Homo sapiens: one gene and its partners. The protein of the gene in region 3 interacts with the protein of the main gene of each other region in a pairwise test. Each region holds a gene or a part of one and is shown on either strand. Other genes may lie near its edges.

Region 1 (3,500 bases), on a different chromosome or scaffold from region 3:
GAAAACTAGAAATACCATTTGACCCAGCCATCCCATTACTGGGTATATACCCAAAGGACTATAAATCATGCTGCTATAAAGACACATGCACACGTATGTTTATTGCGGCACTATTCACAATAGCAAAGACTTGGAACCAACCCAAATGTCCAACAATGATAGACTGGATTAAGAAAATGTGGCACATATACACCATGGAATACTATGCAGCCTTAAAAAATGATGAGTTCATGTCCTTTGTAGGGACATGGATGAAATTGGAAACCATCATTCTCAGTAAACTATCGCAAGAACAAAAAACCAAACACTGCATATTCTCACTCATAGGTGGGAATTGAACAATGAGATCACATGGACACAGGAAGGGGAATATCACACTCTGGGGACTGTGGTGGGGTTGGGGGAGGGGGGAGGGATAGCATTGGGAGATATACCTAATGCTAGATGACACGTTAGTGGGTGCAGCGCACCAGCATGGCACATGTATACATATGTAACTAACCTGCACAATGTGCACATGTACCCTAAAACTTAGAGTATAATAAAAAATAAATAAATAAATAAATAAATAAATAAAAAAGAAAGGGGAAAAAAAAAAAAAAAGAAAGGAGGATTCTGTTTGGATAGGGGATGTTCTTTCAATTACCCACATTGAAGTTTCTTCCAATATTTTAAAGAGCTCTGGGACTTGAGTTCTTGTTTTAATAGTTCTTTGGAGATAGACTTTGGCAAACAGTAATCTAATTTGCTTGAAGGACTGAGTTCTACATGGCGTTCTTAAAGTTTGGCTTACTAACTTTATATTGCAAAGTTACTGGAAACTGGAAGATTCAAAGCAATGGCATCTTTGCCATTAAAAACAATTGCAGTTGGTGCCCTTTTTCTCCATGGATATTCCTGTCAGGTGTGACCAGATGTTGCACCTGATATTGCAGGAATGTCAAGGTGTAATTGTATCTGAAAAAAAAATGTGAACAAATAGTGTTTGTCAATTCAGTTAATCTGAGATTTCTTGAACTCTCATAGGTAGTTCACAGAGCAAAAAAGTTATGGTGTAGACCTTTGAAATACTTATTGATGGGAGACATAGAGGACTAATGTTTAGCTGTGCTTTTTGTGGGGAAAGAGGAGTGTTTTGTTTTTGTCATTTTAGGGATGGGGTTAGAGACAGCTGAGTTATATAGATCTCTGTAATGTGGGGAATGTTTTGTTTATCTGGAATTTAAGTCAGGTTGAAAGGGCTAAAAAGAATGGATATTGAGAATGAGGTATCAAGAGAGATTGTTCTGAGCAAAAACATGACCCAGGAGAAGGTTGAGAGAGCAACCTATTAGCAAAGGGGCCAGAGAAATGGATGAAGGAGTCACAGGCAGTAACATAAGACAGATGAGTGCAAGGTTGCCCGCTATGGTTGAATATTTGTCCCCTCTGAAAATCATGTTGAAACTTAATCCTCAATGTGACAGTATTGAGAGGTGGGGCCTTTGAAAGGTGACTGGGTCATGAGGGCTCTGCCCTCAGGAATGGATTAATTTATTCATTCATGGATTACTGGATTATCATGGAGTGGGCCTGGTTGCTTTATAAGAAGAGGAATTGAGACCTGAGCTAGCACATTAGCACACTCAGCTTTGTCGCCATGTGATACCGTAAGTACCCTGGCACTCTGCAGTCACCACTAGCCAGAAGGCCCTCACCAGATGTGACCTCTCAACTTTGGACTTCTCAGCCTCCATAATTGTAAGAAGTAAATTCCTTTTCTTTGTGAATTACCCAATTTCAAGTATTTTGTTGTAAACAACAGAAGACAAATTAAGACACTGCCCAATGGAGGCCTCCATCTGGGTGGAGACTGAGACATGTTGACTTGGTTCAAAGGTTGATAGTCATTGATGGAGGTGGTTGGATTTCACAGAGAAAATGAGAGGTAAAAGCAGGACTTTATTGTAGCTTTTTGACTTCTGGAGACAAGGTTTAGAAGAGGGGTGGTCTACAGCCCATCCAAGAGAGTTCAGACTGAGTCTGAGATATCACTGTGAAGATGAAGAGAATAGAGACATATATGGAAATTGGTTAATGCTGAACCATATATGGAAATTAGAAATGCTGACGTTTTGCTGAAGAGTATCAGGAAGGATATAGTATTAGGGATGTGATAGCACTCAGCATTTGTCTTTGAATTTTTGGCAGGATCTGTAGGATTTAGTGCAGTAAAATAAATGAGGGACAGTCCCCCATGTGACAGTGTCCTACAGGCAGTGGGAGATGAAGAACTACACTAAGGAATGGAGGTTAGTGTTCACAGCAAACACTGGAGGCCAGACCCAATGATCCTAGAGCTCTAGAGGACATGTGGTCCTGAGGAAGATGACAAAGAGAACTTTGTGACCCCTATAAGAGTCACCCTAATTCTTCATTTCCATTTTCATTTTCATTTTGATAAGCCTCTATAGGCAAGCCCCTTGAAGAAAAGGATGTCACTATTCTGATTTTTGTCCAGATAGCTGCAGTTAATTAAATGAATTGAAAAAATTAGAAACTCTTAGAGGGGTGTATGTTGCATGCATCAGCCTGGCTCTGATGAGTGTCACTTCAACATTGATTGGGATGTCCTGTACCTGGGAGGGAGAGTCAGGCTCTGGTTTCTGCAGAGGGCTCTGGCTTTTCTCTCTTTCTGATAACAGGGCCTGCAGCCACTCACCCTGATCCTCTCTGTGCTGCTCCTCTCCCTGTGGAGGCCCCTCTCTCCTCTCTGGGATCCTGGGGGAGCTGGGAACCAGTGACTCGTTTGTCAGGTTTGGCAGCCCATCTGAGGGCTTCTCTTTGGAGACAGAGCCTGTGCGGCTCTTGCAAAAGCTTGTATCTAGGAATGTGAGGACCTTTCCTGTTTGGAAGCCAGTCAAGGAGTTTTTTGAGAGGGGGAGCCCTTCAAGACTTCATGAAGTGGGCTCTTTAGCAATTAGATGTAGAATTTTGTAGAACTGACCAAGAACTTTACAAGTGATCATTTAGTGTGTGGGTGGCTTTTAAACAGCCAAACTCTTTTGGCGTGTACTTTGGGATCATAAATTCTACTTAAAAGGAAGTTGTTTCCTTCCTCTGATATTTGCCTATTTTGGTGGAGACAAAGAAATTAAATACTTGCCACCCATAATGAGTGCTCATCTCAAGAACAGTATATAGAAGATGTTGAATAAATTTTAATTGAAATGAATTTGTTGGCTGGTTGAATGAATGAATGAATAAAATAAAGTGCTAAATGCCCAGAGTTCACAGCAAAAAGTCAGACTCTCCTCTTCACAGCTCTGTTTACTACTCTCTTCCCCCCTTCCCCATCCCCTTCAATTCTTCACAGTCTCTACAACCTCCTTATCTTATGGAATTTCTCTAAATTTAGAACCAGGATTCTCTCCTATCTCACATTTATTATGGCAGATCAATGCCAGGAGCTTTGAAAGCTTAGCTTTTTGAAATGGGGTTTTTTCTCCTTCCTCTAGTAC
Region 2 (3,500 bases), on a different chromosome or scaffold from region 3:
CGCCCAAGAAACCTACATGTCCAGCCGAGAAGAACTTGCTCTATGAGTTCCTTGGGGCCACCAAGAACCCAAGCGGGCAGCCGAGACTTCGAAACAAAGTGGAAGTGGATGGGCCGGAGCTGAAATGTGAGCTGACCTACCCAGGGAGGGATTGGAGGGGAGGGGGTTGCAGTGACCCTCACAGGCTTCAGGGTGGCTCTGTCACCAAGTGGCTGTCTTATCTACTGCCTTTCTAGAGGTGTCAGTTTTTAAACCCATAAAATGGGGGCAATGACTTTCTCCCCATATCCCTTGTTGGGAATACAGTTGCTAGAGAAGTGTAGTTGGCTTTCAAGGGTCACGTCAGCATTATTAATGGTCACTTCTGAATATAGCCCTGACCCAGCATGTATTATATCCTCTCAAATTGCCCAAGCCAAAACAAAAGATCCTTGCTTTAGATTATTTCTATATTGAGATTATGTTCCCGCTTTCTTTTCCTACAAGGGTTCTAGTCAAACCTCTTTTCCCAAAAGGATGCCAATAAGGGGAAACTGAGGACCCATTTCTGATTTTATAAGCCCCCACAACATCTTGTAGAAAGGAAGAATCCAGGATTCTGATCTTGAAACAACTCAACCTAACTTCATTTGTTTAGACCAATTTTGAGTCACTGCATGCTGAATTATTTAATGTTTTAAAATATAATTTTTAAAATTCCCATATAGATACAACAACCTGTGAAAGTTTCTTAGTGTTGCCAAATATATGTCCTTAGGGAGGGGCTGCTTTAATCATTTGATAAGGATGAATTCCAATGGCATAGCAATGGTTCACATAAAGTTGGATTTTTCCAAAGCAGTTGAAAGAATTTCATTTTGTAAGTAGGTGAAATATAGGCCTAGCAATCTGGCTTATTGTATTCCCTTGCTAAATTGCCTTCTTTACTAGTGAATGATGGAAAGAAAAGCTCCAAGCCAGACCTTCTGGGATTTTCATCCCTTCCAAACTGGCAAGGTGTGAACTAATGATGTTTACCTATAGTTGGAAATGTACTAGAACTTTGAAGAACCCTCTTGGAGCTTAAAGGACCTGACCTGTGAGACTGTGAATCCCTAAGGAAGTTGCGATGCTGAAGGTGTCCTGGCCTCTCCCTGCCTCCATCACTGACCCGCTTTGCCTCTCCTGTGACTTGCAGTTAACGCACCTGTGACGGTTGCTGACAAGAACAACCCGAAGTACACAGGGAATGTTTTCACTCCACACTTTCCTACAGCCATGACCTCAGCAACCCTGAACCAGCCACTCTGGCTCAACCTGAACTATCCACCTCCACCAGTGTTCACGAATCACTCTACCTTCTTGCAGTATCAGGTCAGTGAGCTGGCCTGGCTCTCCTGTGGACATCCACGGGGGTTTTGGCCACAGAGAAGGAGTGGCTGGCAGGGGGTCTATTTCACAGAGTCTTTAGACTCCTCTGAATCCCTTCCCTACATGCAAGAGGCTTCGCTGGGGCTATGGAAGGGCGCTGTCAACTTGTCAGCTTGTTGGTTATTTTTTTCATTGTAGTCACATCAGATCTACCCCTTGGTTCATGTGCATGCGTGCGCACACCTCCACACACACACACATATGTATATTTAGTCCTAACTTTCCATTGTCCGAATTCCAGTTCACACTGTGCTCTTTATTGCAGAGTCTCTTTGCTAGTTGTGGCTGGTTAAGTGCTTGGGCTCCCAGGAGAAGATGATGTCACAGTCCTTGTTTCCCACCTCTCTCCTGTGACTTCCTTTGAAGTTGGATGACATATATCCCAGATTATTTGGGACAGTCCCAATTTAGGTCTTCTGTTCCAGAATAATATGAATGGCATCCCTTTTCACTCTCAAGTGTCCTGGTTTGGACAACAAATTACAGTCAGCCCTCTGTATCCATGGGTTCCAAATCCACAGATTCAACCAATCTTGGATGGAAACTACTTGAAGAAGAAAACAACAACAACAACAACAAAATACAACAACAAAAAATAATGCGAGTAAAAGATAATACAGTATAATAACTATTTACATAGTACATTATTAGGCGTTGTTAGTAATCTAGAGATTAAAGGATACAGGAGCATGCGCATAAGCTACATGCAAATACTATGCCATTTTATATTAGGGACTTGAGCATCCTCATATGCCATTTTATATCAGGCACTTGAACATCTTTATATGTCATTGTATATCAGGGACTAGATCATCCTCATATGCCATTTTATTTTATTTGAGACAGAGTCTCACTCTATCGCCCAGGCTGGAGTGCAGTGGCATGACCTTGGCTCACTGCAACCTCTGCATCCCAGGTTGAAGCGATTCTCCTACCTCAGCCTCCCAAGTAGCTGGGATTACTGGTATGTGCGCTAATTTTTGTATTTTTAGTAGAGACTGGGTTTCACCATGTTGGCCAGGCTGGTCTTGAACTCCCCGCCTCATGTGATCCACCTGCTTCCACCTCCCAAAGAGCTGGGAGTACAGGGGTGAGCCACCGCACCCGGCCCTCAAATGCCATTTTATATCAGAGACTTGAGCATCTTTGTATGTCATTTTATATCAGGGACTTGAGCATCCTCAGATTTTGGTATCCACAGGGCAGGGGAGGGAGGGTGGTCTTGGAACCAATCCTCTGAGGATACCGTGGAATGAGTGTATATGGCCACCTTACTTAAACTACACCAAGCAGTCTTAGCTTTGTACCAACCAAGGTGGCTTGGCACACATTCTTGTTCTTGGGATCATAGCTAAAGGAGAAAATCAATGGCCAGACACAAAGGGACAGTGAAGCACCTGTAGCAGGGCTGGAAATTCTACTCACAGAACTTATTTATGCAGGGAAAATGTAGTTTCTTTATTTTGTCGATTTAACTTAATATCCCTTAAGAGCTGCCGCCCACTGGGTAGAAGGAGGGAAAAATTAAATAAATGTCCACTCTGGTTTAAGCCTTAGCCCAATCCAATAACTTAAATAGTCCCTTTAGGTAGAACTCAATTTTTTCAGGAAAGATTCTCCATGCCTAAGATTTCTGTCTTCTGTTCCTCGCACTGGCTTCTCTCCAGAATTGTATGTCATTGTATGGGGAAGGGCAGGAACTCAAATTTGTGCACTCAGGACCTTGGCAATTTGCTGCCCCAGCCTGGCCCAGCACAGCCTGAAGTGAGAAAGCAAAGAAGGAAATACTTCCAACTCGGCTTGTCCTGTTGCTATGTCCCTTCCCCGCTCTCCACTCCTAGGAACCCTATGTCATTCTTTCCCTTTCAACACAGCACAAACCTTATGTCCTATTGGGAAAGGGGATTGGCTCTTCTGCATATAAAGACTCTTCAAGCTGGTCCACCAGGCTTAGTTTCTGAATCTTAAAGGAACTTAGCAAAGTCTCTCTCTGTTTTGTTTTCAAGCTTTTTGTTTGTGTGTGTGTTTGCTAAAGAGAACAAGTACCCGTCCCCTCCCGAGGGAGGGAAAGCTCACACCCCATTGTGGAG
Region 3 (3,500 bases):
AAAAGATAATGAAGTTTGCCATATCAATTGACTGACTCTTCTCTGCATGAAAGATTTCCTTGTAGCACATGATGTTCTTTTTAGTACTTTACCACAGTAGAACTTCCTTCAAAATTGGAGTCAATCCACCTAAAAACTGCCACTGCTTTATCAATTATATTTGTGTAGTATTCTAAAACCTTTGTCATTTCAACAATGTTCACAGAATTCTCACCAGGAGTAAATTTCATCTCAAGGAAGCACTTTCTTTGCTTATACATAAGAAGCAAGTGCTCATCTGTTAAAGTTGTATCATGAGTTACAGTAATTCAGTCACATCTGCAGGTTCCACTTCAAATTCTAGTTCTCTTGCTGTTTCCATCATATCTGAAATTACTTCCTCCACTGAAATCTTGAACCCTTCAAAATCATCATAAAAGTGGCAATCAGCTTCTCCCAAACACCTGTTAATGCTGATATTTTGACCTCTTCCCATGAATCATGAATGTCCTTATTGGCATCTAGAATGGTGAATCCTTTCCACATGGTTTTCAATTTATTTTGCCCAGATCTGTCTGAGAAATGACACCATCTATGGCAACTATAGCCTAACGAAATTCATTTTTTTAACAATAAGACTTGTAAATTGAAATTATACTTTGACCCATGGGCTGCAGAATGGATGTTGTGTTAGCAGGCATTAAAACAACATTAATCTCCTTATACGTCTCCATCAGAGCTCTTGGGTGACCAGATGTGTTGTCAGTGAGTAGTAATGTTTTGCAAGAGACCCTAACAGGGAAGTCAGTCTGTCCTTTGAAGTTTTCACGTCAGGCGTTGACTTCTACTTTTTAGCTATGAAAGTCCTAGAAGGCATCTTCTTCCAACAGAAGGCTGTTGCATCTATATTCAAAATCTGTTGTTTAGCAGAGTCACCTTCATCAATGATCTTGTTATAGTTAGGATCTTCTGAAAAACTTACTGCAGCTTCTACATCAGGACTTGCTGCTTCACCTTGCACTTCTATGTTACAAAAGTGCCTTTTTTCCCCCCTTAAGCCTTGTGAGCCAACCTCTGCCAGCTTCAAACTTTTTTTTTCTGTAGCTTCCTCACCTTTCTCAGCCTACATAGAATTTAGGAGAGATAGGGCTTTGCTCTGAATTATGCTTTGGCTTAAGGAAATGTTGTGACTGGTTTGATCTTCTTTCTAGACCACTAAAACTTTCTCCATATCAGCAATTAGGCTCTTTTACTTTTCACCATTCATATGTTCATTGGAGTAATATCACTTTCAATTTCCTTCAAGAACTTTTCCTTTGCATTCACAGCTTGGCTAACTGGTGCTAGAAGACTAGCTTTTGGCCTATCTCAACTTTCAACATGCCTTCCTCATTAAGCTAAATCATTTCCAGCTTTCTTATTTACAGTGAGAGATGTGCAATTGTTTCTTTCACTTGAACACTCAGAGGCCATCACAGGATTATTAACTGGCCTAATTTCAATATTATTGTGTCCCTTCCTGGAACTCAATAATATGTGTCTGTTAAGGGGTAGTTCTTTGACAAATTGGTAAAGTCACTGGTAAAGCCAAGACTCTGAAAATAATATAATCGTGCTAATTTGGATGTTTTAGGATTCTTGGGAACCTTGATAAAGATTCATGTAATCTTCATGTGAGATCTCAAAAAGACTAGGGTAGATAGAGGAAAAAGATTGGCTCTATGTCTTGCATTCACACATAAGAAGGTATTTAAGCTAATAACAGCCACATAGCTTTCATCCATTGGGACGGCCCTTTATGTCAAAAATATTAGGCACATTGTGACCCTTATCTCATTAAAAATTCTCCTAACAATCTGGTAAGGTAGGTATTGATAATACTATTTTATAGATGATAAAATTCAAGCAGCAAGAGGTTAGAAATTTTATCAAAGTTTTTGAGTTACTAGAGAGTAGGACAGAATTAAAAAACCAGGTTTGCCTGGGTCCAAACCTGTGTTTTGTTTATTTTTTCACTTATTTCTTTAACTCTAAATATTCCTAAAAGGGAAAACTCATAAAATACGTTAAATTAACCTCTGTCAGAATCATAAAAGAAATTAAGAAACAAGTTTTTAATATTTAAATAAACAAAGCTATACAATTTGAAAAGAGAATTGACTGTAGAAGATGTTAGATTCCCAAGAACAACTTCTGTATTTATCACCAAGTATAGAAATGAGACTTTCTAAACTTGATAAGCTACAAACATTTTATTATCTTCTGAAATAATGTAGATGTTTACTCTAGCACTTCACCTGAATGAGTTTTGCATTTTGTCAAAATTTTGTCCAAATAATAATTTAGGATAAATTTTGGCTTTTGTAAAATCCAAATTTTCCTGATCCAACTGTATTGACTTCTATACACCAATGTTATAATATTATACAAATAGTTTTCAGCACACAAGATTATCAGGGTCCCTGTCAATATACAGAATTGAAAAGAGAAATGACAGAACTCGAGGAAATACTTGGCTGTTGACCTGGGGAGGTAAGTATTAAATTGGGAAGTTTCTTCTTTATAATGTATTTCAGCACTTCCTTTTTCTATAAACAACAACAAAAAAGATTCAGAAGGTTCTATGGAATCTCCAATAAAGTAGTCTCCCTCTTATCCTCAGGGGATACTTTCCAAGCCCTCAGTGGATACCTGAAACCACAGATTGTACCAAATCCTGTATATACTATGCACAAATTTTTCTTTTCTTCTTTACAATTTCATGGACATATTAATTTTACTATAGATCTTAGTAACCTTAGCATAGGAATTTTTTTATTATTAAGTAAAAAACCTTCACCTTTACATGGAAAGGAAGACCTTATGGCCTCTCTTTGGTCTTTCCTTGACATATCCAAATTCCCAGCATTACTACTCTTGTGCTTTGGAGACATAATTAAGTAAAATAAGTTACTTCAATGCAAGCACTGTGATACTGTAAGTCAATCTGATAACCAAGATGTGACTCTGGGTCTGTATACTATGGATAACATCTACAGCGTGGATACACTGGACAAAGGAATGATATATGTGCCAGGCAGAACACAGCAGGACTGTGCAAGATTTCATCATGCTACTCAGAATAAATTTAAAATTTATGAATGGTTTATTTCTAGAATTTTCCATTTAATATTTTTGGAACCTGGTTGACCATTGGTAACTGAAACCGCAGGAATCAACGCCACAAATAAAAGGCGTCTACTCTGCCAGCTTTATCTTATTTTCATTAAGCAGGTTTTTTAGTTTCAGACATGGGTTTTTAAACAAAACTATTTGTGCACAAACTTCCCATATTACCCCAGTTTTTGATCTGCATGTCCTGGTGGCAGCAGAATATCTACATAGATGTTAATTAGGGAGTTATTGTGTTGTATGAAGGGGGTCTCTGGAACTTGGCCTGAAGCAATATTCTTTGTAGGGTCCATTATTTTTATTTATATTGTTTGTTTTTGGGGGTGACAAGAGTAGCTAATGAAAATGAT
Region 4 (3,500 bases), on a different chromosome or scaffold from region 3:
GTCTAGCCCCTTTATTTTACAGACGATCTCCTCGTCTGAGGCCTAGAGAGGGGCTTGATACTTGGGGCCAGTCTCCCTTCCACCCTGCTGCCTGGGGTTGGGGAGGCTGGCCTGCTTAGAGATTTCTAGACATCCTGGTGGACCTTAATGGCTGGGGAGGGGTGCCCAGGGCAAACCTACAGATGTCCAGTGTAGATTGTCGCCAGAGTTGGGGAAGGAGGCAGAGAGCTCTAGGGGCTCTCAGGCAGAGAACAAGAGGACAGTTGTGGCTGTGGTTGCCCGGAGCTGTGAGAAGGAGGGAAGAACCAAGGTGGCAGCAGAGAGAGGAGAGCTGAAGCCTGCCCCTTCCCTGGTCTGCTGGCTGTCCCACTGCAGTGGGGACAGGCAGGCACCAACTCAGGGGCCTTGGGATTGAGGTTTGGGCTGAGTGGAGTTTGGGGGAAAGAGAAGGCGGTCTCCTCTCTCCTCTCCTTTCCTGGGGAGTTCCTTTGGCCTAGGATATGTCCATGACTTCTCTCTTGTCATTTTTGTCTCCTTAGGACTGAAGGGGCCCCCAAGTGCCCACCCCCGGCGGTTATGTCTCCTCCATAGATTGGTCTGCTTCTCTGGAGGCCTCACGTCCATTCAGCTCTCACCTCGCACCTGCTGTAGCCACCAGTGGGCCCAGCTCTTCTCACCTGCCTGCTTCCCCCAGTGGCGTGCTCCTGGCTGTAGTTTGGATGATTCCCGTTCTCTCACAAGAATCCGTCCAGTCCATCTTCCTGGCCCCTCCCTGGACTGACTTTGGAGACCTAGCCCCAGAAAGCCTCCCTTCTTCTCCAGGTCCCCTCCGCCCTAGTCCCTGCCTGTCTCATCTAACGCCCCAAACCTTCATTTGGGCCTTCCTTCCTCATGTCTGCCCTGAGCGCGGGGTGGAAGTGCTCCCTTCTGTGGGCTCCAGCAGATCCCTTGTTTTCCTGTCAGTTGGACCCCTCACCTGGCCTCCAGGGAAGAATGCAGAGAAAAGCAAGGAGAGACTCTAGTTAAGAGGTGCTGGCTGCGGGGATCCAGACAGGGCACATTGGGGGCATGGAAGTGCCAGGGTGGTTTTCAGGAGCTCTGGTGAAGTGGGTGGAGCATCAGCGTTTGCTCAGTTAAGGGAGAGGTAGAGAGGGGCCCGTGAAGTCCTTTGTCACTTCTCTTGCCTTAGTGTGCCTCCCAATACTCCCTTCTTCCTGCCCCCACACCCCATCCCCAGCTAGCCCAAGCTCCAGGTCAGGAGGGGAGGGTGCTGGGCCTGACATGGCTATATACCCTCCCAGGAGTAAAAGCCAAGCAAGAGGTTGTTTTTGCCAAGAATCACAGAATGTTAGAGCTGACAGGACCCTTGAAGGTCACTTAGCCTTCTTAGGCAAACGCCTGCAAAACAGAAGCCTGGAGAGGGGAGTGACCTGCTCAGAGTCATTGCAGAGCCGGGATGGGGACCAGGTCTCCCATCTCCTACTTTATGACGCCCTCTTCCCTCTTGATGATGTCTTTTCAAAGCAAATGAAGTGCCTTTTCCCGAGGCTGGGGCTGGGGGTGGCTGGGAGGGGAAGGGAAGGGAGAGGCAAGCTGGCTGTGAACTGTCCTGTTGTGGGGCTGGAGCTGCTCCCACCTCCCTGACCTACCCCTGCTGCACCATTCCCCCAGCTGGGCTGGAAGGTTCCATAACTGGCCAGCTGCCCCCATAACTGGCAGCATTCCCAGACCCAGGGTACTCTAATAGGGGCGGCTCAGGCACTGAGACTACCGCTCAACCCCAGGGTGGTTTTCAGGAGTCCGAGGTAGCCTTCAATCACTGGACTCCATGGCCTTCCCTTCGTGTTGACCGGACCTTCCTTCCAGGGCTTTTCCTTTGGGGGAGGCGGAGAGGGGAGAAGAAGGAAGGGAAGGGCAGAAGGAAGGAGGGAAGAAAAGAAAGCAAAGGAACAGAAGGAAGGAAAGAAAGATGGGAGGAAGTGCAGCAGGAATAGCACCCTCTCCCCGGGAGGCCCTAGCTTCCGTGAGGGGCCATCACCAGCCATTCCTTGGAGGGGGCTTTCTCCCCTTTTGCTTGAGCAGGGTTCCCAGGAGGGAGAAAGAGAAGACAAGAGCCTGATGCCCAACTTTGTGTGTGTGGGGACGGGGGAGTCAGGGCCCCCCAAGTCCCACAATAGCCCCAATGTTTGCCTATCCACCTCCCCCAAGCCCCTTTACCTATGCTGCTGCTAACGCTGCTGCTGCTGCTGCTGCTGCTTAAAGGCTCATGCTTGGAGTGGGGACTGGTCGGTGCCCAGAAAGTCTCTTCTGCCACTGACGCCCCCATCAGGGATTGGGCCTTCTTTCCCCCTTCCTTTCTGTGTCTCCTGCCTCATCGGCCTGCCATGACCTGCAGCCAAGCCCAGCCCCGTGGGGAAGGGGAGAAAGTGGGGGATGGCTAAGAAAGCTGGGAGATAGGGAACAGAAGAGGGTAGTGGGTGGGCTAGGGGGGCTGCCTTATTTAAAGTGGTTGTTTATGATTCTTATACTAATTTATACAAAGATATTAAGGCCCTGTTCATTAAGAAATTGTTCCCTTCCCCTGTGTTCAATGTTTGTAAAGATTGTTCTGTGTAAATATGTCTTTATAATAAACAGTTAAAAGCTGACAGTTCGCCCTTACTCTTGGAGGTCATGTTCAGGAGGGGCATTCCTTTCCCCTGGGGGTCATGGGTGTCCCCATGCCCACATATTGCACGTGCAGGGAGGTAAGTGCCTGCATCCCAAATCGGTTCTAGGTCAACTGGCCTCAAACTGATTTGCCATGAGCTCACAAAATGAATCCCTATGCTTAATGACCAGGTCACATAAAATCCAGCCCACTTACAGGTTTTCTGGCATCTGTTTGGGTGTCCTAATTTTTTTGGCAGTGTCATTTGAAGAATTTTTTTAAAGCAGTTTATTTAAGAACATACTGATTAAATGCAGGATCGCTACTAAAAATTGTTTTGTATCCTTGGTGGGTGTCTTCTGCTATTTTATCTACTTTTGAACACTTTCAGGACTTTTTAGCCAGTTTGCCTTTCTTGAAAAATGTTATGTTTTCAGCAATAAATACATTTGATAATGACTTTGTTTGTATCATTTTATGTTTCACAAAGTAGAGTTGCTTGATGAATGAGATAGCCTGAAAAATAAAATGCAAAGAGTTCAATATAATTCTGCCCCATCTGTCTCATCACTTCACGTTTGTTGTCAAAATGCCAATATCTTGCAGAACAGAAGGGAACATTGGGTACATGCTAATTTGGTTAATAAACCCATTAGGTGCACACAGGAATACACAGTACAGAGCAAAACTCAGTGAGAAGCAGAGAGGAGGGATCAAAATGGGTTCATTTGATAAATCTCGTGGGAAATCCTATAGATTTGACAAGTATTTAGTGCTAGAAATATACAATTTTAAAGAAAGGGTCTTCAAACAAACTCCCTAAAAAGTCATAAAAATGATCAATAGGAGA

The links. The genes of interacting proteins can lie anywhere in the genome.
Region 1: the proteins of PLSCR4 (region 3) and NID2 interact in a two-hybrid assay, tested with the Homo sapiens proteins (one large-scale study listed by BioGRID).
Region 2: the proteins of PLSCR4 (region 3) and C1orf94 interact in a two-hybrid assay, tested with the Homo sapiens proteins (one large-scale study listed by IntAct).
Region 4: the proteins of PLSCR4 (region 3) and APLN interact in a two-hybrid assay, tested with the Homo sapiens proteins (one large-scale study listed by BioGRID).

The regions. Positions count from the first base shown.
Region 1 is NC_000014.9:52,062,560-52,066,059, reverse strand, and holds part of NID2 (nidogen-2 precursor), read left to right. Parts: intron 1-3,500.
Region 2 is NC_000001.11:34,200,907-34,204,406, forward strand, and holds part of C1orf94 (uncharacterized protein C1orf94), read left to right. Parts: coding exon 1-126; intron 127-1,177; coding exon 1,178-1,353; intron 1,354-3,500.
Region 3 is NC_000003.12:146,202,606-146,206,105, forward strand, and holds part of PLSCR4 (phospholipid scramblase 4), read right to left. Parts: intron 1-3,500. UniProt on the Homo sapiens protein: Catalyzes metal ion-induced ATP-independent rapid bidirectional and non-specific movement of phospholipids (lipid scrambling or lipid flip-flop) between the inner and outer leaflet of the plasma membrane and participates in the redistribution of phospholipids between membrane leaflets.
Region 4 is NC_000023.11:129,644,957-129,648,456, reverse strand, and holds the end of APLN (apelin preproprotein), read left to right. Parts: intron 1-539; 3' UTR 540-3,198; downstream 3,199-3,500. UniProt on the Homo sapiens protein: Peptide hormone that functions as endogenous ligand for the G-protein-coupled apelin receptor (APLNR/APJ), that plays a role in cadiovascular homeostasis. Functions as a balanced agonist activating both G(i) protein pathway and beta-arrestin pathway of APLNR.